Linked DNA regions of Homo sapiens. The protein of the gene in region 1 purifies or fractionates together with the protein of each later gene. This does not show direct contact. Each region holds a gene or a part of one and is shown on either strand. Other genes may lie near its edges.

Evidence for each region.
Region 2: the proteins of CDH2 (region 1) and CTNND1 purify together in Homo sapiens (affinity purification with western blotting; 6 studies listed by BioGRID and IntAct, with this or other methods). This does not show direct contact.
Region 3: the proteins of CDH2 (region 1) and JUP purify together in Homo sapiens (co-immunoprecipitation; 4 studies listed by BioGRID and IntAct, with this or other methods). This does not show direct contact.
Region 4: the proteins of CDH2 (region 1) and CTNNA1 purify together in Homo sapiens (affinity purification with mass spectrometry; 4 studies listed by BioGRID and IntAct, with this or other methods). This does not show direct contact.

What each region holds. Positions count from the first base shown.
Region 1 is NC_000018.10:28,174,100-28,181,564, reverse strand, and holds the start of CDH2 (cadherin-2 isoform 1 preproprotein), read left to right. Parts: upstream 1-4,434; 5' UTR 4,435-4,542; coding exon 4,543-4,602; intron 4,603-7,465. UniProt on the Homo sapiens protein: Calcium-dependent cell adhesion protein; preferentially mediates homotypic cell-cell adhesion by dimerization with a CDH2 chain from another cell. Cadherins may thus contribute to the sorting of heterogeneous cell types.
Region 2 is NC_000011.10:57,757,973-57,764,817, forward strand, and holds the start of CTNND1 (catenin delta-1), read left to right. Parts: upstream 1-3,829; 5' UTR 3,830-4,147; intron 4,148-6,845. UniProt on the Homo sapiens protein: Key regulator of cell-cell adhesion that associates with and regulates the cell adhesion properties of both C-, E- and N-cadherins, being critical for their surface stability.
Region 3 is NC_000017.11:41,769,695-41,776,726, reverse strand, and holds part of JUP (junction plakoglobin), read left to right. Parts: intron 1-3,800; exon of another isoform or gene 3,801-4,137; coding exon of another isoform or gene 4,138-4,180; intron 4,181-4,470; exon of another isoform or gene 4,471-4,534; intron 4,535-4,864; coding exon of another isoform or gene 4,865-4,872; coding exon 4,873-5,080; intron 5,081-7,032. UniProt on the Homo sapiens protein: Common junctional plaque protein. The membrane-associated plaques are architectural elements in an important strategic position to influence the arrangement and function of both the cytoskeleton and the cells within the tissue.
Region 4 is NC_000005.10:138,931,423-138,935,564, forward strand, and holds the end of CTNNA1 (catenin alpha-1), read left to right. Parts: intron 1-1,155; coding exon 1,156-1,290; intron 1,291-1,465; coding exon of another isoform or gene 1,466-1,536; intron 1,537-2,379; coding exon 2,380-2,667; 3' UTR 2,668-3,612; downstream 3,613-4,142. UniProt on the Homo sapiens protein: Associates with the cytoplasmic domain of a variety of cadherins. The association of catenins to cadherins produces a complex which is linked to the actin filament network, and which seems to be of primary importance for cadherins cell-adhesion properties.

The DNA.
Region 1 (7,465 bases):
TCTTCTAATATTGGATCAGATCACTACTTCTCTGAGCACCAGATGAATGGCTATCTTGTGTTTAGCAGCCAGGTTGTATCAAATATATGGATCTTTAAATGCCAAAATCATAATAAATAACACAAGATAATCACACTAAGAAAAGCATATGAAAACTGAGAGCAGTGAAGAGTTATGTCCTCAATTTCACACATACTTTGAAGAACAAAAAACTTGAGAAAAATAGTAGACTAATCCCTAGCATCATTATATTTTCTTCTTTAAAAAGAAAAATCTCCCTTTCATCCCATATAGTTGAATTTTTCAATGTTAAAGGAACTTCCCAGAATAAGATAGAGAGCATAGGTAAGAGTGGGAGTAAGGGGACCTGGGTCCCATTCTGCATTCCCTACTTTCCAGCTGGTGGCCTTGTGTACCTTTTTAAGTCTCAGGGTGTCCCATCTGTAAAATGAAGGGGTTGCAGAGACCATCTTTAATGTTTCATTTAGAACATTCTATGACTCTATGAAAGGGATATTACCCAGGGAAAGTCAGCTTTAATGTACACTAAAGCTAATTATGGAGAAAATGTAATTTGAGGGGTACTTTCTAAGGGAGAGGGACAATCCTAGTTTGCTCTGAAGATGGGGAGAGGAGGAAGAGTGGAGAAGGGGGTCTTCATTCAACATTGGGAAGGACACTGCGCTAGGTGTCAGAGACAAAGACAAGTGTAGGGCCTGTCTTTGCGGTGTGTATCTATAGGGGGTAGGGAAGGGGAGGTGGGGGAGAGGAGGCTCTAGATTAGACTACTACTGCTGAGCATTTATGTCCAAAGCAAGAACCCTTGTACACAAACACCCACATGGTGAATTTGTACATTTAGCATCTCCTGCCTGACAAAACACACCAGAACAAAAATTATTACGATTTTCGAAATGAATGCTTAGAAACAAATCATGATCTCTACACACATATAAAAACTACACATATATAAAAATGAATGCTTAGAAATGAATCATCGTGACCTCTACATATATATAAAAACGGGCCATGTGTTCAGAGCACATCATTTAATCAGGTTTCCATAACGGTTTGCAGACCTCTTATAGTCAACAGGCATCACTCCATAGGTCAGAAATGAAGGATTAGGTTGATTTTTGATGTGTGAATGCAGTCATGTTTTATATTATTCTATATTTTTTTCTTGTCTCCATCCATCCAACCCCTAATAACACCTGGTTGTTTCTCTGGGTCACTGACAATCCCCTACATCCCTGGAGTTCTACAGGCTGATGGAAAACCAGTCTTCAGACAAGTAATGCTTTGAGCAGGGGCTAAAAATCTGCGAGTTTGGTCATCAGTTGCCCAGGACAGTGAATGGCCCCGTTAGCTAATCTTAGGTATGGTATTACTGAGGTAAAGCTGTGTTTGGATATCATAGTCAACACCAGATCTACTTTCATTAACATCAAATGGATGCACAAAGTCTCCAACAGCATGATTTTAGACTAGACTATTCCTTCTTGTAATCAGAGGCCTATTATTTATTATTAGCAAGATTTGGCTGACCAGGTGATCAACTTAAAGTGAGGCAAGATGCTAAAACAATTCACAACCACTGAAGAGTGAGAGGCATGCAAATTGGACTTTTAAAACATGCTGCAAGTGCTTACTTAAAGGATCAAAAACTGTTGGAATCAGAGAATTCCTTGACTGACAGCCATTCCAAAGGAGATTTTGAAATCATAAGTGCTTAATTTATAAAGGACATGTTTAAAGCTTCAAGTAAATACTACTAACAAGAAATAGAGTTATTCATGTTGAAATTTGTTCCACCTTTAAATTAATCAGAATGGCAATAAACATCAATGGGTACTGCTAGGAGTGATGAGGATACAGTCGAAACCCCACGACGAGGGTCGAAGCTTAAATCTTAGCCATGGAGATGAGATCTCTACATCTCACTCTGGAATACAACAAACATATCCCCATATCTCAACTGAATTTTTACTATTATTTTGCATGACTCCCAGAAAGCATAATTTATAAATACTCTATTGCAAAGATAACTTTTAGGCGGACTAGCAATAGTGTGACAATAATATCTAGCAAAAAAAGAAGAGAAAGGGTAAGAACAAGCACTTCTGATTACTATATTAAGTGTTTCATCTCATCTTTTAAATTTAATTAACATAACCTTTCTTATTCTTTTGAAAAGAAAGAAAATCCAGGAAAAATTTTGTTTCATAAAAAACTTACAATATTATGTTTTAATTAAAATTGAATAAGCCTCCCTATGAATATTAAATTTTTAAAAGCCTAGCCAGCAACAGTACATTATTAAAAGCTGTATCAGTTATGTCAAGAAATTAGTAGCTGGTTTTTAAAGGTTCATCATCAGATTCTTAAATGATCGGTATCTTGAAACTCAAATAAAGTTAATATTTCAGTCACCCAAAGCAGAAAAGCAAGCAATAAAGGCAGAAAATATTCATTAACTGCAATGAAGTTCACCGATCTCCCAAGTGTTGAAAAGCTTACATAAAACGGATATTTCTATTTACTTGTAAACCTTTCTTAAAAAAGGTTCCGGAAAATTTATTACCTCACCAGAATTAGAAAAAACAAAAACTGCTCCCCATCCCCCGCTCCATTCCACAAATGCTTGTGACTCAAACTTGTAAAGTCTCTCACTGTGTTGCACTTGAAGTTCATGCCTTAAAGGAAGCCAGCAGAAATCCTTTACGTGGTGAGAATTCTGTATCAGTCATTTTATCTTTTATATAATCCTATTTTCTCAAGTTCCGGCTTTTAGTTTCTCTCTTTTTTAAAAATTGTTGTTAGGGGTGGTAGGAGAGGGTAAAAGTACCCTGAAACTGTTGGCCCCAAATGTGAACAGTACCACTAACAGGTAGTAATAGAAATAGAAAACGGGAGATTTCAAATAAAATAACAAACATGCACTCTCAAACTCCCAGAGGGGACAAAAGAAAACAAAACAAGAACACAAAAACTTGGGCTGTTCCAGTACATCCTCAAGGGTGGGAGCTGAAGGTGCGAGCTCCAGAGAGGAGCCGCGGCCTCCGCCCTCCCCCGCCCGCAGGTGGCTCCCGGCGAGCGCCTCAGACAACAATAGCTAGGATGAGCTTGGCCTGCGTCCTTAGTTTGCTGTGTCTGCCCCTGCCAGGAAAGATTACCCATCTCCAAAGAATGACAAAATAAAGAAGCGTACGTTAGGCTCCCAAGGAGACACCGCCCCCCCTTCCCCACCATTCTTCATCTCCATTAGATTCCCTACCGCGGACCAAAGATGAACCTGCTACCAATCAAGTTCCTGCCCAAGTTATTTTATTTCCCGCAGCCCCTCCACCTGCCGGGGCGGTGCTCGGCGCACTCTAGGCTTCCCTCCGGCGACCCCCCGCGGGCTGCAGCAAAATACGGGGCGCTTCGGCGGGGCGGGGGCGGGCGGCTGCCGCGGATCCGGCCGGCTACAGCCGCAGCTTGGTGGCCTCCGATTGGCCACGACGCGGGCGGGGAGGCTCGGCGGAGGAGGGAGGCGGGGGCGAGGGCGGCGGCGGCGGCGGGAGGAATAGGAGAGGGGAGCGGGCCGCGCAGCCAGGCAGCGCGTGGGGCGAGCGCGGGGAGAGCGGCGGCGGCTCGCCCAGGTCGCGCAGCGGAGGCCGAGCGGGGTGCGCGGTCGGCGACGGAGGGCGGCGCGCGCGAGTGAGCGGCGCAGGGCGAGGACCGGCGGGCGGGTGCCGGTGCGCGGGCAGCAGGGGCGGCTGCGGCAGCAGCTGCGCGGGACGGAGCCGCGGCGGGAGAGACCGCGCCGGCCCCTCGCCTCACCCCCTTGCGGCCGAGGCCGGAGAACAGTCTCCAACTCGCCGGGGGACCGGAAAGAGGAGCCGAGAAGCGCCCCTCGGCCCCCACGCAGCGGAGGCGCGGAGTGGCGGGACTGCTGCTCTTTGTGGGTGCAGCACGCACGACCCGGAGCGCCCTCCCCGCGGCGCTGTCCCCGGCGTCTTCGTCGCGCCGAGCGGCCCTGGAGCGGGGACCCGGAGGAAGCAAAACCACGAGCCCGAAACCTCGCGTGGCGGAGCTCTTGGGGAGCGCCATCCGCTCCACTTCCACCTCCACATCCTCCACCGGCCAAGGTCCCCGCCGCTGCATCCCTCGCGGCTTCCGCTGCGCTCCGGGCCGGAGCCGAGCCGCCTGCGCTGCCACAGCAGCCGCCTCCACACACTCGCAGACGCTCACACGCTCTCCCTCCCTGTTCCCCCGCCCCCTCCCCAGCTCCTTGATCTCTGGGTCTGTTTTATTACTCCTGGTGCGAGTCCCGCGGACTCCGCGGCCCGCTATTTGTCATCAGCTCGCTCTCCATTGGCGGGGAGCGGAGAGCAGCGAAGAAGGGGGTGGGGAGGGGAGGGGAAGGGAAGGGGGTGGAAACTGCCTGGAGCCGTTTCTCCGCGCCGCTGTTGGTGCTGCCGCTGCCTCCTCCTCCTCCGCCGCCGCCGCCGCCGCCGCCGCCTCCTCCGGCTCTTCGCTCGGCCCCTCTCCGCCTCCATGTGCCGGATAGCGGGAGCGCTGCGGACCCTGCTGCCGCTGCTGGCGGCCCTGCTTCAGGTACGCGGCGGTCCCCGCGGGCCGGGCCACGGGCGGGGTGGGGCGGGCGGCGCCGGGTCCCTTTGTTCCCCGCGCCGCTGCGGGGCCGGGCTGCGCACCCGGGAAGGGAGGTGCCACGCCGCGCCGCGCCGCGCCGCGCGGCCGGTAGCTGCGCAGGCATCGGGCTCCGTCCGGGCGCCGGGGCAGGGTTGCCGGGGCCAGTAGGTCTCTCGCGCCTTTCCTGGCGGGGCTCTAGGGGCTGGATTGCGGGTCCCCTCTGCTCCTTCTTCGGGGCCGAGCAAGCTCGCGGGGGGTGTCCCCAGGCAGCAGGAGGGTGAGGCAGGATAACTCCCAGGTTTTGCAGTTTTCTGTGCCTTTCGCCCCTCGCATAGTACTTTGCTCCAATTTTTTTGTTTATTTCTGCAGGGATGGGTCGCGAGTTTACAGTAGGAATTCTCACTCTGGTGTCTTAGTTACGGGACTTGCCTCCACCTTACCCCACCCTGCACCCGTGCGCCTCCCGGTGCTCAAGGGCTCTACTGTCCTATTGTCTTTATCCCAGTCTGGAGTTGCCTCCTTTTCTTCTTCTCTTGCCCTCACAATATTCTGTGTTCGTCCCACCTGGAAAGAAAATCTGGCCCTCTTGCCCGGAGGAGTCTCTGCCGGTCAGCGCCTGCCTGTAGAACGAGTCTGGCCTCTCACGCCTAGTATCTCCCCCGGGCGAGAAGTTCCGTTACGCGGCTGCTCCTTTCTCTGTCCGGCTGCCTGTGCCCTATATGCGCCCCGGGGGCGCCTTTGCCTGGAGCCTTCCGTACTTTTCATACCCTCGGGAGAGAGCCAGCGAGCCTTTTCATTTAATCTCTACTAAGAGGCTCCTCCGCGGCAGGAAGCACCTGCTCCAGTCCGGGCGCAGGTTCCCTCGCCACTGCACGCTGCGGGTTCCCAGCCCGGGGGCAGCCCAACTTTCCGCCGCCTCCAACCCGAGGATGCCCCCAGGCTCCTCCCGACCAGCCAGCCCAGGCCTGGAGGCCACTTCACACAGCCTCGGCCGGGACCCTCTAGCTGGGCGGGTGCAGTGCCCTGGTCCCAAGTCGGTCTCCGCCTGCCGTGGGGTCCCTCGAAGGTTGCGGGAAAGGGGCGTGCCCACCCTCGCCGCGGGGCAGGAAAATCCACGGAGGGTCCCCCTGCCTGTCGCCCTCGGGGCAAGGGGAGAGGTGCTCTACTGCCAGCTGGCAGCCCCGAAAAGTGCGGACGCAGCTCGGAAGTGCCTGCTCCGGGGGTGGAGACAGGTGGTGTGGATTACCCCGCTCCGTGGTCTTCACGGGTCAGGGCCTGGCGCGCTCCGGCCCGCCGGGGGGTGAGTGCTGCTGGGGCGGGGGCAGGGGCTGGACGGGGCTGGCCTCCGCAGTCTCTCGCGCTTTCTCCCGCAACCCCTAGACGGTCGTGGGCCGCCGCCGCGCGGAGCCCTGTCCATGGTGCGCCATGGTGCGGCACGCCTGTCCCTGCCCGGCTCCACGCTCTCCTCCCGGGTCGTGCTCTCTCACTTTGTCTCTCCCCACCCCTGCCTCCCAGGCCAGGGTCCCAGCGTTCCTTTTCCCTTTCTTGGATTTCTTCTTTTGTTCTTTAGTCTCCTACCGGTCTTTCTCCCTTCCCCCACTCGCCATCCGCCACTCGGCTCTCTCCTGACTCGGGGATTTCAGAACTATTAGACTAGACATTTTTGGCCTTTGCAGTTTTGGAGAGTGGATGGAATTCCTTCTAACTTGGGGGAGGAGACCTGCCAGTCACTTGCTAACAAAAGTACCTCCTGTTATAAAACCGCCCTTTATTCTCCCAGCGCACACTCCTCATTCTTTGACCTCCTGTCACTTCATTTATTGTTTCTTCTTTAAAAATGGGGTTTATTAAAGAGGTTAGGCTGAAGGAGGAAGAAGGAAAAAAGTCCTGCTTCTAAAGTATTTGAAGTTAAATGGAAGGCAAGACAAACTTAAAGACTCCTGTGTATTAGGATTTTTTTTTAACAAAGGAGATGTGATACATTTTTTACAAATCTTACTTTAAAAACACTAATTTTTGGACAGCATTGGGTCGTCTTATTTACAGACAGTAAATCCTCAGTGTGAATCCAGCAGCAGATGGTTATTTTCACAAACTTTTTCATCTAAAAGTGAGTTTTAATTGAATACTGTGCAGCGAAGTTAGGACACGAAGAGACATTTGTTGGTCATGAATACTGTGGGAAATCTATGTGTGTTACAAGTGGAGCACTCTCATTTTCTGTTTTAGTCATCTGCCTTGAAGTCAGGTGTGAATTTTCTGTCAGTTTTTTCTTAAGTGTTTCTAAAAATATCGTTTATAAGCATTAAATAATGTGCTTTTCCATTGTATGTTCTTTCTCAGTTTCTTCTATACCAATGTTGACTTTTTTAAACCTTCAGGAAAGGAGAAATTATAACTTTCTCATCAAGTTATTTGGCAGTCCTCTAATTCATGAGTACAAGTCAAGCAGTAACATTGAATGATTTGAAAGGTCATTAGGAGTGGAAGCAGAGCAGTTTACGCAACATGAGTTTTAGGGTTAAGTGCACCATGTGGATTGTACAACTGAGATTAGAAATGACTTTGTGCTAATGGTCTGCTTTACACGCCCGAACAACAAAGCTCTATCTGCAAGGTGAAAGTGGCTGTCCTGCAGTCAGCTGCTATTAACAGTCTAGGTTTTTTTTTTCTTTTTTTTTTAAATTCCAGACTAAGCAGCCGATAGTTTTAGAAAAGAGAATATGTAGGTTATTAGTGCAGATACGGAGCACCCTTGTTTTTTTACAAGCTAAATATAATTGAATATTCAAAGGACTCTGTGCCTTGAATTGTTAACTGAAGTGTC
Region 2 (6,845 bases), on another chromosome or scaffold:
CCAGGCTGGAGTGCAATGGCACAATCTCAGCCCACTGCAACCTCTGCCTCCTGGGTTCAAGCGATTCTCCTGCCTCAGGCTCCCGAGTAGCTGGGATTACAGGTGGTGTGCCACCAAGCCCGGCTAATTTTTTGTATCTTTAGTAGAGACGGGGTTTCACCATGTTGACCAGGCTGGTCTTGAACTTCTGAACTCGTGATCTGCCTGCCTTGGCCTCCCAAAGTGCTGGGATTACAGGCGTTGAGCCACTGCGCCCAGCCCATGGAGCTTATCTTCTGATGGGGGAGACAGAAGTATACATACACACAAATGAAAACAAAAGAAAAAGGAAGACAAAATACTTGCAAGTTGTGAGTAGTGATGTCTTCAACAAACAAGACCAATCTGTCTGTAGAAAATCATGTAACATTCTAGTATGTGGCTTTGATCTCGGAATCAATGAATCAACAAACATTTTTGGGCTGGTTGTTTTCCTTTGGTGATTATCTTTGGCTTTTGAACTTGCTATGGAGGACTAGGAATTGATGGGGAATAGAGGTAGAAAATGTGATAAAAGGAGAAGATTTTTAGGTAATGAGGCTTAAAGGCTGTTCATATCTTTGTTATAATGTATTCATTTTCAGCTGTAGTTTATTTAAAGCCCATCAAACAAGTGCTGTAATGCATGTTTGGTTTTTCAACACTTCTGAGGAAAGTCCTTTTTGGCCACTATAGACCAAATATAGGTCTATGAGACTATAGACCATATATATAAGGGAGTGGATAATGACTACATCAGCATGATTAAAAGCACATTCATGCTGAGTTGTTGAATTCTAGTTTATCTAGGTAAAGAAAGGTCAGATTATGGTTGATAATGTGTTACTTTAATGTACTGAATGAATAAATGTGGTGCCTTCAAAGCAGATGATAGTCCCCTACCATCCCAGTCAACATACAGTAGTCCTGTTTCTAGGATTTCTCTTGACCTTTATCTTGACCATAGTGTAACGTAATAGAAAGAGCATGGGCTGTGGAGTGAGACTGGTGAGGGTTCACTTAGCCAGATGAGATCAGGCAAATTTCTTCACCTTATTGGACCTTGATTTCCTCATCTGTAGAATGGTTGTAGTACTATTTCTGTGGTCATGTTTTAGAAGTTTGAAGTACTGAGCTCAAAATACCTCTTACATGGTAGACACTTCATCATTGGTTGCTATTATTGGGCAGTGGCTCACCACTGCAAGTTTTTGGGCAGGGTAGTTACTGAATAATAAAAATAATGATAATGCATTCTTAGTGAGTTTATACTACATGCCATACATTAAGAACTTTTGTTTTGAACCGGAGTCTCGCTCTGTTGCCCAGGCTGTAGTGCAGTGACACGAGCTCAGCTCACTGCCTCCCGGGTTCAAGCGATTTTCCCACCTCAGCATCCTGGGTAGCTGGGACTACAGGTGTGCGCCACCACGCTTGGCTAATTTTTGTATTTTTAGTAGAGACGGGATTTTGCCCTGTTGGCTAGGCTGGTCTGGAACTCCGGAGCTCAGGTGATCCGCCTGCCTCGGCCTCCTAAAGTGCCAGGATTACAGGCTTAAACTACGGTGCCTGGCCCAAAGAACTTTTTGTGTATTTTAATTCCCACAACAGTCTTGTGAGAGAGATATAGTTATCTCCATTTTATAGTTAAGGAAACTGAGGTTCAGATTATTTAATTTGGGTCAAGGTCACATAATAGTACATATATTTGAGTAAGTGTACTTACTTACAGAGGTGGAGTTTGAAGCTAGGCAGTTTGTGAAAACCTATACTCTTAAAGTTTCATATTTCTTTCTTTTTTTTTTTTGAGACGGAGTTTTGCTTTGTCACCTACACTAGAGTGCAATGGCATGATCTCGGCTCACTGCAACCTCCACTTCCTGGGTTCAAGCGATTCTCCTGCCTCAGCCTCCCGAGTAGTTGGGATTACAGGCACCCACCACCATACTCGGCTAATTTTTGTATTTTTCGTAGAGACGGGGTTTCGCCATGTTGGGTCAGGCTGGTCTCGAACTTTTGACCTCAGGTGATCCACCCACCTCGGCCTCCCAAAGCTCTGGGATTACAGGTGTGAGCCACTGTGCCCAGCCAAGGTTTCGTATTTCTATTCTAGATTTTGATAACTTGATGAAGACTCATTTGGCAGCAGTCTATAGGGTAAGTTTTAGATTAGTAAGAAAGAAGAAGGAAATCTTTGATTCATCATTGTCTTTGTTTTAGTAATCAGGGAATAACCATAAAATGCTAATCTTTGTCAAGCATGTTAAAAAAAAAATCCAGCCTCTGTCCATCATGGTCTAACAGTTTAAAAATATGTCCTAACTCAGAAAAATAATACCCCAATAATCCTTTATTTAGGTCAAATGTAAAAAGAGAATGTATAAGCTAGATCATCTTAAGCTTGAAGTTCACAAAGAAATAAAATGTTCTTTTTTTTTTTTTTGAGACAGGAGTTTCGCTCTTGTTGCCCAGGCTGTAGTGCAATGGCACAATCTCAGCTCACCGCAACCTCTGCCTCCCCGGTTCAAGCAATTCTCCTGCCTCAGCTTTCCGAGTAGCTGGGATTACAGGCATGCACCACCACGCCCAGCTAATTTTGTATTTTTAGTAGAGACAGGGTTTCTCCATGTTGATCAGGCTGGTCTCGAACTCCTGACCTCAGGTGATCCGCCCACCTTGGCCTCCCAAAGTGCTGGGATTACAGGCGTGAGCCACCGCGCCCGGCATAAAATGTTCTTGACATGAGATTTACTTTCTTTACCTATGCTGTTATTCCCTCTAAATATATTGCTTGTTTATTGGATTTCATTTCCTCTTTCCAACAAACCCACATTATTTTGATTTGGGGACAAATTGGGAAGACAGTGATTTTCTTTAACAGCCCAGTGGATTCTGCTTCCTTCTAATTCAAAGTATGGAGATTAAAACTGTTAACAAGTCTAGGCATTAAAAAAAAAAATAGCTCTAGATGGGGCGTGGTGGCTCACGCCTGTAATCCCAGCACTTTGGGAGGCCGAGGCGGGTGGATCACCTGAGGTCAGGAGTTCGAGACCAGCCTGACCAACATAGAGAAACCCCGTCTCTACTAAAAATACAAAATTAGCTGGGCATGGTGGCACATGCCTGTAATCCCAGCTACTCGGGAGGCTGAGGCAGGAGAATCGCTTGAACCTGGGAGGCGGATGTTGCGGTGAGCTGAGATCGCACCATTGTACTCCAGCCTGGGCTCGAAACTCCATCTCAAAAAAAAAAAAAAAAAATAGCTCTAATGCAATTAATCCAAAACAGTGAAACTGAGTTTACCTCAGATATCCCCTACCATCCCAGTCAACATATAGTAGTCCTGTTTTTAGGATTTCTCTCTCCTTTCTTTCCCGTCTTCCTTTAGGGAAATGCTTTGGGGTAGGAAGCAACAAACCAAACAGCAGCAGGCAAGTAAAATCAGCTCTTTTCTATTTCCCCACTGGGATAGTACAGAAGAGGGAGCAAGAACTCATCATCAAAGAGAACTGAGACTTAGGCGTACCATTCTAAAAAGCCCTTGTTCCTTGTCTCCCTTGCCTCTTCCGCCCCCCTCAGCTCTGCAGTAATTCCTCAGAGATTGTACAGTCTCTCCACTTTAAATATAAATATATAAATATAAATATATATATGTATAAACTTCCCCCTGTCTTTCTCTCCTCTCTTTTTTTTAATTTTCTATAATAAAGTTTCCTATTGGATAAGGTCAGCTCCCTGATTTATGCCTGGTTCCTATTGGAAGCTCACAGGGGCTGACATCACTTAGGAAAGCGAAGGGGGTAGGGCTGCCAGATCAGTTTGTCACCACCCAGGCTCCCTTGCCTTTGGCTGGGTGCAACTTCCATTTTAGGTGTTGGATCTGAGGGGGAAAAAAAAGAGAGAGGGAGAGAGAGAGAAAGAAGAGCAGGAAAGATCCCGAAAGGAGGAAGAGGTGGCGAAAAATCAACTGCCCTGCTGGATTTGTCTTTCTCAGCACCTTGGCGAAGCCTTGGGTTTCTTTCTTAAAGGACTGATTTTTAGAACTCCACATTTGAGGTGTGTGGCTTTTGAAGAAAATGTATGTACTGACGGGAAAAGGAGGATAAGCAAGTCGAATTTTTGTCTTACGGTAACCGGAGGGAATTAAAAAACGGGAGAGTCTGTTATGCTGATGAGTAACTTTTAAGCAATTATTTTTCTTTTCTACTTTCAGTACTTTGGCGGGGGAGATTTTGGTATTTTATTATATTTAAAAAGGTAAAATATACAAGACCTAGAAACAAACTTCTAGGTCTCTTTAATACAGGAAGCTGAATAGATCCAGAGGGGTAAGAGCAGGTTTGAAAATTTACATTTTGGTGTGTTCTTTGATTTTATTTATTTATTTTTCTGGATTAAGCTAACATATTTCTGTTTTCAGAGCCCAAATCAAAAGTTGGTTTTTTGGCATGTTGCATGTGGGTTGGGAAAGAAATTTGTCCGTGTCGGAACCCAGTTATACCGATGGTTCTTCATATGTTTAAAACTTTTTTTTTCTTTTATCATTGGATTTGTGGAAGTGGAAAGTTGCAGGGAGCTTTGCAGTGTAAATGGTATTGTTTTTCCCCCAGAGAGTTTGAACGGCCCGTATCGGTTTCAGCCCTGCTGTTCCTGGGTGGATCCCTCTTACTTTTCCAGGTGCGGTGGGTGGGAGCCTCATTCTCCTGCTAGATGTAGTCTCCCTTCTTTGGCTTATAAAAGAAAACAAATGGAACCATGTTAACTGAATTGCCATCTCCTTCTTCCTTCTAAACTACCTTTGATAGCAAAGATTTGTGGAGGTGTTTGTTAAATCTGCAAATACGATAACGTTTGGTTTATGTGTTTAAAGGGATAAGGAAATTCTAATCATGCTTTTTATTTCACCTGAGTAAAGTGGCAACATACCTGAAAATATTTTCAGCTTTTTGCACTCTGAAAGGGCCAAGGGTGGAATAAAATTAGGTTTAGAAAAACCATTTATACAAAGTTTAGTGTTTAAAATACATTTCAGAAAACAAGGGAGATTTTTATTTTTAAACCAACCTGAAAGTTGTTTTTTGGAGTTGAATTTATTGTTTAGTTAATTTACCATGAAATCTGAAATCTCTTAGAGCTGAAGGCCCATGACTGTGCTTTCATATCTTATATTTAATCTTAAGATTTGTTTTGTTTTTGCAAATACATTCTTGCAAAAGTACGGATTCTAGATAATTATATAGCCAACTCATCAGTAGCTGAAAAACTAGGGTATTCTCTTCTCTTTTTGAAAATGTGAATCCGCCTGAAAATTATAGATGCTGTCCTAATTGTAACAAGATGGGCTTTAGTGTGTAAGCTGCTCATTAGCTTTAAACTGGTATGGATCTTTAATAATCTGATTTCGTTCTCCCCTCACCCCCCTGCCACAAATTTTTTTAAGACTAGACTTCCTTGAATTTCTTTTCTAGAATGAGGGTATTTCTTGAAAGACGATTTCATCCTTGTGAAGTTGTGGCTTCAGGAGGAAACAGAACTTTGTTCCTCCTTCAAATACAACCTAGGCAAAGGCTGCAGGAAATTTTTGATGTCTGAATCTCATAATTATAACAAGTACAGTTAAAAAGAAAGAAAAAATACAATGTGTATAGGCTGTTGAACTGTAGTTCTTGTTTAATATTTTCCAAATTTTCTTTCAAATGTTCTCTCTGCCTTGACTCCAGCCTGGGGAGGTTTCTTGGATCTTTAGAGTGTTGGTCATGTTGCTTCCAGAGTGTCTGTTTCCCACTCAACCTTTAGGGGGAGGGATGAGGGAATCTGAAGGAGGAGTACAAAGGCAGTTTGAAAATAGGTTCTGGATGACTGAGTGGTGGTGATTTGGGTCTAGCTTTAAATAGTGGGCTTTGTGTAGCTGAAGTGAGCATCCTAGTTAACCTAGTGTCCAGGACTATTTCCACGAACTAAGGGTTGTTTTGACTGGTGTGTAGTACAGAGCCTTTGGGGTGATAAGATGGAAGATTTGTCTTTTACCTCACCTCCACTGGTTCTTTCAGGAATTATAAGGGATGCAGATAAGTAAATCTTTTATTTTTTAAATTTTTTGTTTTGCTCATTGTCTTGGTTTTGGGGTAAAAAATGATGATAGGTAAGTATGAGCTGTTCAGATATTTCTTTCCTTGTTTGCCTCCTATGTACGGTTGGTTTCTTTGTTATGTGAGTAAGGTAGTGGTCTGTGTTCCAGATTGCGGGGCGGGGGGGCGGTTCTCTTTTAGGTGGTTGGAGTTCTAGTACCTTTCTCAGGGTTCCAGCATGGACAGTCAGAGAAGCTCCAACATGTTCTCTGAGCTAGGGTAAAATTGAGACTATTGGTGATATTAACAAAAAGAAAAGCACTAAGTAATTACAATCCAGCCTTAGGTTTATGAAGTAGCTGCTCTCCAGGGATGAATGAGATAGGATGGATGCAAATAAATTAAGCATAGATCACTATCAATTGGAATAACAAAATGATTAGCTTTGTATAATTTATCTCCTTCTATTTTGGTACCCTGTTAGTAACTGCCAAGGCCCTCATTCCCCCCTACCTCCCCACACCTTGTTTTTAGTGTATTCTAAGCATTTTGCATAAACTATTAATTTCCCACCACTGGTTTTTTTGTTTGTTTTGTTTTTTAAGGAATTTGACCCTCAGAGAAGCTGAGGTTTGGTGAAAATCTCACTGCCTGTAAATGGTTGAGGCCAGGATTAACCCTGGTCTGACTAACTACAAAGTCCATGGACTTAACCACTAATATACTGCCATTCTCCAGAGAGAATGGAAACAACAGCTC
Region 3 (7,032 bases), on another chromosome or scaffold:
CCCCCTCACCTTTTTGTTTTGAGACACGGTCTCGCTCTGTTGCCTAGGCTGGAGTGGCATGATCCTGGCTCACTGCAGCCTCAATCACCTGGGCTCAAGTGATGCTTCAGCTTCCAGAGTAGCTGGGACTGCAGGTGCATGCCACCATGCCCGGCTAATTTCTTTTTATTTTTTGTAGAGACAGGGTCTTACTATGTTGCCCAGGCTGGTTTCGAACTCCTGGGCTCAAACGACCCTCCCACCTCCGCCTTCCAAAATGCTGGGATTATAGGCACGAGCCACTGCGCCAGCTGGCTTCCGCCTCCTCTGCCATCTCTTTGTTCTTCTAGCATGAGAATGCATGCCTTTCCTGTGGACAGAGGGCTTCCAGAGTCACAGTGACAAAAGAAGTCACTTGATCATCTCCATTTTACAGATGAGAAAATGAGGCTTAAGGAAATTGAGCCCCTCTCCTCACTCAGAATCCTGTGCTCACCCTGTCGCTGTCTGAGCCTGGGGACCTGTGTCTGCACAGGGTGCTGGCCTCTAGCCTAAGGAACCTCTGGGGGACCCAGCCCTGCCCTGCTCCGCCCTGCTCCTCTGTTCCCAAATGCAATGCTTCTGAGTCTGCTTCCAGCACGGCCTCTGGGGTAACCCACTCCTGTCCTTATTTCCAGGTGTCTTGGCACTTGGTGCCCTGCAACCCAGCCTAGATGTGCCCATTGCTGACTGTCCTTGGCAGGTGCCGGCTGGGGAAGGAGCCTGGTGTAGCTCTGGTGGGGCTATTTTTAATGTCAGGGCTGGGCCACACTCTGCCAGGTCAGTCTTGGATTTAGGGTGCCCGGTGCCAGCCCTCTGGGTTGGCTGCGCAGAGGAGGAGGCAGGAAAGAAGGGTAGGGGTGCACCCAGTCTAGCCTTATTACTTGCTCACACTTACCTGGTGTGGGTCCCATGGGGAAGGGTCCTCTGCACCCCCTCTCCAGGGCCCGTCTTCCTTCTTCCTGTCCTTGGGCTGTCCCTACAGTCTCTGATCTGGCTTCTTCCTCCCGTGCTGCTAACAATAGAGCACGCTCTAAACAAAGGCCCCCCATTCAACTCAGAAACCCGCCCTGTCTCTGTCCCTGCCCGTCTCTGGCTGGGATGAGTGGGCAGGGCCTGCGTCTGTCTCTCTCGCTTCCACCCTGGCTCTGTCCAGGGGCATTGCAGGAGGTCTGACTCCAGGTCCAGGGTGGAGAGGGACAAGACTGAACTGGGTGTGGCCCCCTCCACCCTGGGAACTGTAAAACCAGCACTTTTGTTTCTTGTGAGAGAAGTTCCTTTGTTCTCCTGGGCAGTAGGTAAGGAGAAGGGTGGGGCTGGTTGACAGTCCTGCCTGAGGTCTGACTTCCAGCCTTCCTGTTGCAGGAATAGCTCCCGTGACCCCTTCCTCAGGAGGAGTTCTGGAGTGTGTCCTCTCTCTGAACTGGTTCCCAACTCTGACGTTGCCCACCCCCAGCCTTCTTCTGTCTGTTGTGGGAATCCTGTTTTTTTATTTCTAGAATCTTAGACATCAACATTCCTTTGAGATCCAGGGACACAAGGACACCCAGCAAGTTTGTGGCAGAGCTGGGACTAGAACCTGGGACTCTTTTTTTTTTTTTTTGAGACAGGGTCTTGCTCTGTTGTCAGCCAGGCTGAAGTGCAGTGGCGCAGTCTCGGCTCACTGCAACATGCACCTCCCTGGTTTAAGCAATTCTCCCGCCCCAGCCTCCCGAGTAGCTGGGATTACAGGTGCACACCACCATGCCTGGCTAATTTTTGTACTTTTTTAGTAGAGACAGGATTTCACCATGTTGACCAGGATGGTCTTGAACTCCTGACCTCGTGATCTGCCCGCCTTGGCCTCCCAAAGTGCTGGGATTACAGGTGTGAGCCACCGCACCCGAACCTGGGACACTTGATTTGCAGCCGAGTGCTCTGCTTCCATCTGCAAGCACCTTGGTCCCCTCCTCCCCTTGGCAAGAGGGCTCAGCTCCACCCAGGCTTGTCTAGTGGACTGGATGCTGTTCCTACCACAAGTGCTGCCATTTTCTCAGTGTGCAGGCACAGCTTCTTCACCTAGAAATTGGGAATAAAGCCAGGCACAGTGGCCCAAGCCTATAATCCCAGCACTTTGGGAGGCTGAGGTGGGCGGATCACCTGAGGTCAGGAGTTCAAGACCAGCCTGGCCAACATGGGGAAACCCGGTCTTTACTAAAAATACAAAAATTAGCCAGGCGTGGTGGTGCACACCTGTAGTCCCAGCTACTTCAGAGGTTGAGGCAGGAGAATCACTGGAACCCAGGAGGTGGAGGTTGCAGTGAGCCAAGATCATGCCACTGCACTCCAACTTGGGCGACAGAGAGAGATTCTGTCTCAAAAAAAAGAAAGAAAGAAAGAAATTGGAAATTATAAAACATCTGCCAGGGTTGCTTTGAGGGAAGAATGAGATTCACATAATAATAAAGGCCACTGGGCGTCCACCCCCCCACCCCCCCATGGCATCCTGTGGCTTCTGTCTCTCCCTGGGTAGCTGTCTAGCCCTCAGCAGTCTCCTGGCGGTTGACCTGGGCTGGTGGGGGTGGTGAGGGGCCTGCTGAGGAAGTTCCTCAGCTTGACTGTGGTGGTCCCTTTAGATGTGAGGCCGGCAAGGGGTGACCCTTGTTTGGAGTGAGGCCCGCTTCCCTCTCCCTTAGCTGAGAAGCCCCAGGGTTAGGCACTGTCTATGCAGGAGGGCCCTCTGGCTGGGATGCAGTGTGTTTGTTGACCAGAGCTGCAGATGTCCAGCAGTGTCCAGATGTCGTTCAGCCTTGAGCCCAGCAGAGCGGCATTCAGTGGGTTATTGCTACCGTGTTTACTTGTACACTTGCACCTTCCTTCTCTCCTGGGGGCAGCTTCTCTTCCAAACTCTCCTCTGCTCTCTCTTGGGACTTGCCCTTGGGGCAGGGAAATGGTTGGGGAAGGCGGCACAGCACGAGGAGCTCAGGATTTTAGTAGGGTTTTCCCATGTCTGCCTTCTCCGAGCACCCCGCCCCCCGCCCCCCACCATTGCCCCTGTTTCCTGCCAGTGGCCATTCCCCTCTGTTGCTGGGGAAGGGGTGTGGGGAAGGGGTGCGTGTGGAAAGGGGGCTGGTTGGGGGGGCTCCTTCTGAAATAGCTACACTTTCGAATGCCTGGGAAGCAGCTGTGCACATCTGGCGGCCCGAGCCTGTCGTCTGGGGTCTGCCGTCTGAGGTGGCGGGACTGCTTCTGTTTAATCAGCCTGAAACTCTGAGTCACTAGGGATTGCGGGAGGAGAGGAAGGAGGCAGCTGGGAGCTGGCCTGGCCCCTGCCTCTGCCTGTTCCGGGTGTGCTCACGGCTGCCTGCCATAAAAGGCTGGGAGACCTGCAGGACCATTCGTCATCCTCCTGGAGGGCCAGGGCGGCACTGGGGCAGTCACAGGGAAGACTTATCCTTGGTGATCTTTGTTCCTGGGGTGGGGCCAGGTTGCCCCAGCCACCCCACCCTCACCTGGTCCCCATCACAGTGAGACAACCCGGGTGCTGCCTGGCTTCATGGGTGGACCAGCCTGAGTTCTGCTTACTCACTGAGGCTGCGCCGGGATGTGCAAAGACTACAGACCTTGGTGCCCTCACACCTGGTCCCAGTCCCAGCTCTGCCATTTCTAACCTCAGTTTCTGCATCTGTACGCGGGGGACCAGTGCATGGGCTTTGAAACCCGCCCATGAGCATGACGGTGTCTGTGAAAGGTCTGGCTCGTAGTAGGCCCTCATGGGATCACGGCGTCCATTCTCCCCGCAGCCTCTGACCTCTGCAGGTCAGTTCCCAGGACAGTGGAGCCAAACACAGACCAAGCGGGAAGTTCACCTCCCTGGTACAAAGTTCGGCCCTGCTACTCATTAACCTTCAGGTGCGCCTAAACCTTTGCAGAGAGAGAGAGGGGTTCCTGACGGCAGTGACCACCCACAGGCCTGCCCCACCCCAGATCCCTAGCCTGGGCTCGAGGAGACCAGGAGGTGAGGAAGCACTTCTGGAGGAGAGGCAGTGCTGATGATAATGGCCGTGGCCTCTGAGCACCTGCTATGCACCAGGTCCTCGCAACCACCTCTGAGGGAGGTGGCGTGACCCCGCTTTACAGATGAGGACACTGAGGTTCTGTGGGGAGAGGAACTGCCCCAGTAGTGAGTAGCTGAGATTTGAATTGCTCTGTGGGACTCAAAGAGGCGTCTAGGGACTGGGAGGGCTGGGAGAGAGGGGGCCTTAGGGTCTGGACCTCAGGGCCATGTGTGATCCTGCCCAACCTGTAGGAAAGCCAGATCCTGGAGTCTCTGAGGGAGCCTGGGGCGCTCCAGAGAAACCTGTCAGACCGCTTCCCTGCCCCGCCCAGTTTCCTGCCCAATGGCTTGGGTGCCTCCTCCCTGCAGCCTTTCCCAGGGAGCCCCAGTAGTTGAGGGTGGGCCCAGGGGACCTCAGAAGCTGCTAGAAGCCCTGAGTGCCTTCTCTTGCCCCTGGGAGAGTTGGGTCAGGGCAGCAAGGTGCGTGAGCAGGGGCTTCTGGCGGCAGCTGGCCCTTGACTGTCCTGCCCCCTGGGGCTCATCCCCCTGGGAGGTCAGAGATGCAAGCCCAGGACATACACACAGCCGCACCCCTGGGGCTCACTGCTCCCAGGGTATCTCGTCGTGGGCAGCCCCTCCCTGGGCCTGGTGCCCTTCTGGGCAGTCCCCCCATCCCCAGCCTGCATCCTCATTGAAATCCCTGGGCCATGGTGATGATGTGGGAAGACAGGCGGGGCTTGGTGACGGGCTGAAGCTGGGGGCTGGGCCAGGTGACTTCCTGCTTCCTGACTTCCTCCTTTGTGCCCCCAGTAGCCACGATGGAGGTGATGAACCTGATGGAGCAGCCTATCAAGGTGACTGAGTGGCAGCAGACATACACCTACGACTCGGGTATCCACTCGGGCGCCAACACCTGCGTGCCCTCCGTCAGCAGCAAGGGCATCATGGAGGAGGATGAGGCCTGCGGGCGCCAGTACACGCTCAAGAAAACCACCACTTACACCCAGGGGGTGCCCCCCAGCCAAGGTCAGGACCCCTGGGGACTATTGCATGGGGCAGAAAACCTGCCTGGGTCCTGGAGAGAGGTCAGAGTGAAAGGAGGCAGATTGTAGGGGGTCTCTGGTCTGAGGGAGGAGGCACAGCTCATGCTAACTAGGGGCCCACCCAGTCTGAAGGAGGAGGTGCAGCTACTTCAGGGTGCTGCATCTGGGAGGGTCACAGAATCCTCTTCTGTGAACCATCAGTAGGGAGGGAAGGCATAGTCCCTGCCCTTAGGGTGCCTCCAGTCTGAAGGAAAAGCCATAGTCCTTGCCTTCTGTGAACATAAGAATCTGATGAAGACATTGGGTACGGTGGCTCATGCCTGTAATCCCAGCACTTTGGGAGGCTGAGGTGGGCAGATCACCTGAGGTCAGGAGTTTGAGACCAGCCTGGCCAACATGATGAAACCCCGTCTCTACTAAAAATACAAAAATTAGCCGGGTGTGGTGGCGCATGCACCTGTAGTCCCAGCTACTTGGGAGGCTGAGGCAGGAGAATTGCTTGAACCCAGGAGGCAGAGGTTGGAGTGAGCTGAGATTGCGCCACTGCACTCCAGCCTGGGCGACAGAGTGAGACTCCGTCTCAAAAAATAGTAAAAAAAAGAGTCTGATGAGGATGTATCACTATGGCTCTCAGGGAGCCCATGGATGGCAGGGAGGACGCAGCCCTTTGGCTGCAGGAGCCTCACGTTTGTGGGAGAGCCAGGGCCGTAGCCCCCAGGAACCCCCAGGGATTCCCCTTTGGGTAGAGGGGTGTAGGTGTCAAGCCTGAGGGCCCCTCGTTGGGGTTGGAGGGAGACCAGGCCTCTGCGGCTGACCTGCAGATAGGCCAAGGCTGTGGGATGAGTGACTGACTCAGCTCTGGGGCTTAGTCCGGGATGGGGATGCCCCGCCAGCCCAAGCCTCCCCTGCCCCTCTGGGAGAGAGGAATAGCCAGGCCCTAGAACTGTTGGCCACAGGTGCCTCCAGGGCCCTGAACATGCCAGGGGGTGGGCTGTGGGTGCTGGGAGTAGTGTGAGTAGACTGTGGCTGGTGGGGCTCTATGGAGCTCAGCCCTCGCATGCCAGTCTCCTCCCTGACAGCTGGTAGGGGTAGCAGGGGGCCTTTTGGCTGGCAGGGCCAGGCACTGTGTTGGTAGCAAAAAGTACAGCATCCAGGTGGGAAAGCCATGCAGCTGTCTCCTCCTTCTCGACTAATTAGAGGGTGGAACCTCTGCGTCCCTCTCCCTGGGGGCATCAGGACAGTTGCCAGGGTGTGGCTGCTTGGGCACCTACCTGTGGGACTCCCAGACCCACCCAGGGGATGGAAGCTAGAGAGGAACCTGACGTCTCAGCTGAGGACCCAGCTCCTGCTCTCTGAACCCACAGCCCTGACTTTCCCTCTGATCTGCTGTGAGATGTGATGTTGGTGGTTCTCTGGGCCTCTGTTTGCCTGCCTGTATAGTGGGAGGATTGCTACCGTTGGGGATGATGAGGGTGTAATTAGACTCCTGAGATTTCAGGGTTGAAAACAGACCTGATGGGTAAGGGAGGAGAATAGAGTAGGGGTTTGGGCCCCTGAGTCAGGCTGCCTTATAACCCCTCTGTGCCCAGTTTTCCCATCTGTAAAGTGGAGCCAGTGATAGTACTTACCTTGCAGGGTCGTTGTCAGGTTATGTGAGAAAATATAAGCAGGGCATTGAATTCACTGCCAGGCACATAATAAGTGTGCAAAAAAAAAAAAAAATTCCCTTGATGGACAGAACATGTGGGGCCTATTTTACAGAGATTACTGAGGTGATGGTGACTTCCCCAAGGTTCCTGGTGAGAGGTAGAATGGCCAGTCATGTGCTGGGGGTTTGGGCAGGGCAAGAGGTAGCCCAGAGGACCCAGGTGGGGCTGTCTGTGGCCTGCCCTGCTCCCCAGTGTCTGCCCAGCCCACTGCCTGCACTCAGTCCCT
Region 4 (4,142 bases), on another chromosome or scaffold:
GTTACAGTTTTTCTCTGTAGTTAACAAGCCTCCCCACCATTTTCCCTGAAATAGCCAAACTCTCAGCCTCATCTAGGCCACAGGATGTGTGAGACACAAGCCTCCTTACACAAGCCAAAGATTGTAAAGGCATCCTTGACTCCCACACAATCGGTAATAGGGCCTATTGCTTCCATTGGCCAAATGTATCTTGACACAAACCAGTCTTGTCCTTTCTGCAGATCTCCATAGCCACTTGGACTACTGTGGCCGCTCCCGATTTCCTGTTCTTTCCTCTCTCCACTTCCTTCTGCATCCAGCTGTCAATACTGTCATCTGAAAATGCAGATCACATGGCTCTGCCCTGCTTCCATGACTACTTAGAATACAGCTCATCTCCAGTATGGTCTGCGGGGTCTCAGTTCATACCACTCTCTGTGGTGTACTTTGCTCCAGCCTCACTGGAAGAAAATGTTTGCTTGCTATAAACACTTGAGAGGTGCTCTGTGTTTCTCCCTTTGGGTAAAGCTTTCTAGGCTGGTCCTAATCTGGGAGCCTCTAAAACTCTGAGATGTGGAGCGAGACAGGAACTGGGCAGGGGCCACCCTTTTCTCTTTGACCATCCCCAACTGCTTTTTTTCTTGCTTTACTTTACTCACTTGTCTTCCACCTCAGCCTGCAGTGAGTGGCTTTTGTCATCAGGCATTAATAACGCAAAGTGCCTCAGAGCAGAAGAGTTAACTATTTGTTTACTTAGCTAAAAACATCTGGACTTTTCTCCATAGCCAGGCTCCTGCTTGCTGAGCCGGCTTGTTCTCACCTCGAGGGGCATGGGCCTCCACCCTGCCGTTTGGGGTGAGGGGATCCTTGGCCAGGGTGGTTTCCCCGCCGTCATAGGAGGGAAGTCAGTGGGAGGCTCAGAAGGCCTTGGCTATACAACCAGTGCCATGCGGCGCAGTCAGGGTCCCATGGACGACTTCCATCAGCTCACCCGCCTCCATCCCCAAGCAGAGTGTAGGCAAGGGCTGTGACTGCCTCAGGTAATTGGGTGATTTTGCTCCAGCAAGAGGAGAGGAAGCATGTGAGTGCCACACTGAACCTTTCAGAAACAGCCGTGGGGTCGGGGGTGCTTGGGCCAGGCCAGGATACTTGGTGTTAAGCCTGCTCTCTCTTCAGTGCCCCGACTCGGCTTGCAAGCAGGACCTGCTGGCCTACCTGCAACGCATCGCCCTCTACTGCCACCAGCTGAACATCTGCAGCAAGGTCAAGGCCGAGGTGCAGAATCTCGGCGGGGAGCTTGTTGTCTCTGGGGTAAGCATTAGCTGAACAAAAAGAGGGCCAGTGGGAACGTGCTGACCCTTGTCAGAAATGAAAGTCACCTCCTATCCGCATAAACACCTGCCCTGGGAAAGTGTGCTGTGCAGAAACTCCAAGTCCTGTCCCAGTCTCTGGAGACCAAGGTCTGTCCATCATCTGTTCCCTGTAGAACTGTGACACCTGCGGGGCACTGCAAGGGCTGAAAGGCTGGCCTCCTCCCCTTTGCTGGCCACTCACTGGGTAGGAATTTTTAAAAATCTTCCTTGGGACCGGGCGTGGTGGCAGGTACCTGTAAGTCCCAGCTACTTGGGAGGCTGAGACACAATAATTACTTGAGCCTGGGAGATGGAGGTTGCAGTGAGCCGAGATGGCACCACTGCACTCCCGTCTGGGCAACAGAACAAGACTGTCTCAAAACAAAACGAAACAACAAAACAAAACAAAACTTCCTTTTCTTCCCCCAGAGAGGAATTAAGAGTAGACATAGATAGGGTGTTTTCTCAAAAGCCCTTCACTCCTCAGAGTGCTTGGGTAGCGTCTCTTTCTTTTTACCACATCACAGTTCTGAGGCCTTTCTCACCTAGGGCAGGGGAAAGAAGAGGTTTGCTGAGTGGATTGGGGTCCACCGAGCCTCCATGGCTTCTCTTAATCCCACTGAATTTCCTTTAAAAGAAACACTTCTTATATTGAACATATTGAGACCATTTGCTCATCTGCTTTGCCATAAACATCCCTGTCTCGATTCCTGCTTCTCCTCCCCCACGTGCTTACAGCTCTGGGATCACTTACAGTGACTTCCAGTTGGTTTGAGTGAATAAACACTTGCTGAGGGGTGGGGGTGAGCAAGGCGAGGTTGCCTCATGTCTTCTCCAAAGGGTCTGAGGGCAGGCGCTTCCAGGCTATTTAGATAAGAGCAGCCGTTGAGGGTGTTCTTCAGGAACAGGCTGCTGCCCAATCCTCTGCGACCTGCCCAGGCCCTGGTCTTGCAGAGGAGTAGGGGGCTCCCCTTCAAGCACAGCCCACCTGTGTCCACGAGGCTGGAGGTCAGGCCGGTGCTTCTTACCACCCCTGTCTGCCTCGTAGGTGGACAGCGCCATGTCCCTGATCCAGGCAGCCAAGAACTTGATGAATGCTGTGGTGCAGACAGTGAAGGCATCCTACGTCGCCTCTACCAAATACCAAAAGTCACAGGGTATGGCTTCCCTCAACCTTCCTGCTGTGTCATGGAAGATGAAGGCACCAGAGAAAAAGCCATTGGTGAAGAGAGAGAAACAGGATGAGACACAGACCAAGATTAAACGGGCATCTCAGAAGAAGCACGTGAACCCGGTGCAGGCCCTCAGCGAGTTCAAAGCTATGGACAGCATCTAAGTCTGCCCAGGCCGGCCGCCCCCACCCCTCGGGGCTCCTGAATATCAGTCACTGTTCGTCACTCAAATGAATTTGCTAAATACAACACTGATACTAGATTCCACAGGGAAATGGGCAGACTGAACCAGTCCAGGTGGTGAATTTTCCAAGAACATAGTTTAAGTTGATTAAAAATGCTTTTAGAATGCAGGAGCCTACTTCTAGCTGTATTTTTTGTATGCTTAAATAAAAATAAAAATTCATAACCAAAGAGAATCCCACATTAGCTTGTTAGTAATGCTCTGACCAAGCCGAGATGCCCATTCTCTTAGTGATGGCGGCGTTAGGGTTTGAGAGAAGGGAATTTGGCTCAACTTCAGTTGAGAGGGTGCAGTCCAGACAGCTTGACTGCTTTTAAATGACCAAAGATGACCTGTGGTAAGCAACCTGGGCATCTTAGGAAGCAGTCCCTGGAGAAGGCATGTTCCCAGAAAGGTCTCTGGAGGGACAAACTCACTCAGTAAAACATAATGTATCATGAAGAAAACTGATTCTCTATGACATGAAATGAAAATTTTAATGCATTGTTATAATTACTAATGTACGCTGCTGCAGGACATTAATAAAGTTGCTTTTTTAGGCTACAGTGTCTCGATGCCATAATCAGAACACACTTTTTTTCCTCTTTCTCCCAGCTTCAAATGCAAATTCATCATTGGGCTCACTTCTAATAACTGCAGTGTTTCCCGCCTTGGGCTTGCAGCAGAAAAACCTGACAACATAGTGTTTGCTAAGGCAGTAATTTAGACTTTACCTTATTTGTGATTACTGTAGTGATTGATTGATTGATTACTATTAACTACAAGGTATAATTTACTATCACCTTATTTAAATTTTATGAATTAATTTGAATGTTTTTTACACTAACTAACTTTTCCCAATAAAGTCCACTATGAAACCACGACATCCAAGAGCCCAAAGTCGTCTTCTCTGCCTTCAAGTCATAGATTTGCCCGCAGTATCTGTGGTGCTCTGGGCCCTCCCGGTGTCCGTCTCTTCCAGGATGGGGATGCCCGGGAGGGAAACTGTCTGTGGCTCTAGGCTGCACGGCTCGTGCCAACCCATCAGGGAGGGCCATGCCCGTTGTCCTATTGAGTGCCCCACCCTGCACCCCCACCTTGGGAATTCACATGTCCATTCCTTGAGGTTCATGTCAACCTCGGAGGCATCCCTGTCTTCATTATAGCTGACCCCTCTCCTGCGTCCTTCTGTCAGCATATCCCTTCTGCATCCTTCCCGTCACACATACATACCAAGCTATGATGATTGATTGATAGTGGCCTTCGAGATGAAAACCATCCTTAACCCCATGATCCTTCCCAGCTGGCATCCCCACCCTAAGCAAGGTTCCCTAAAGAGAAGCTTGTTGACATTTTCTCCCCTTCCTCACTTACAGTCAGCTGTCACCTTGCTCCCTCCACCTCCCCTCGTCAAGG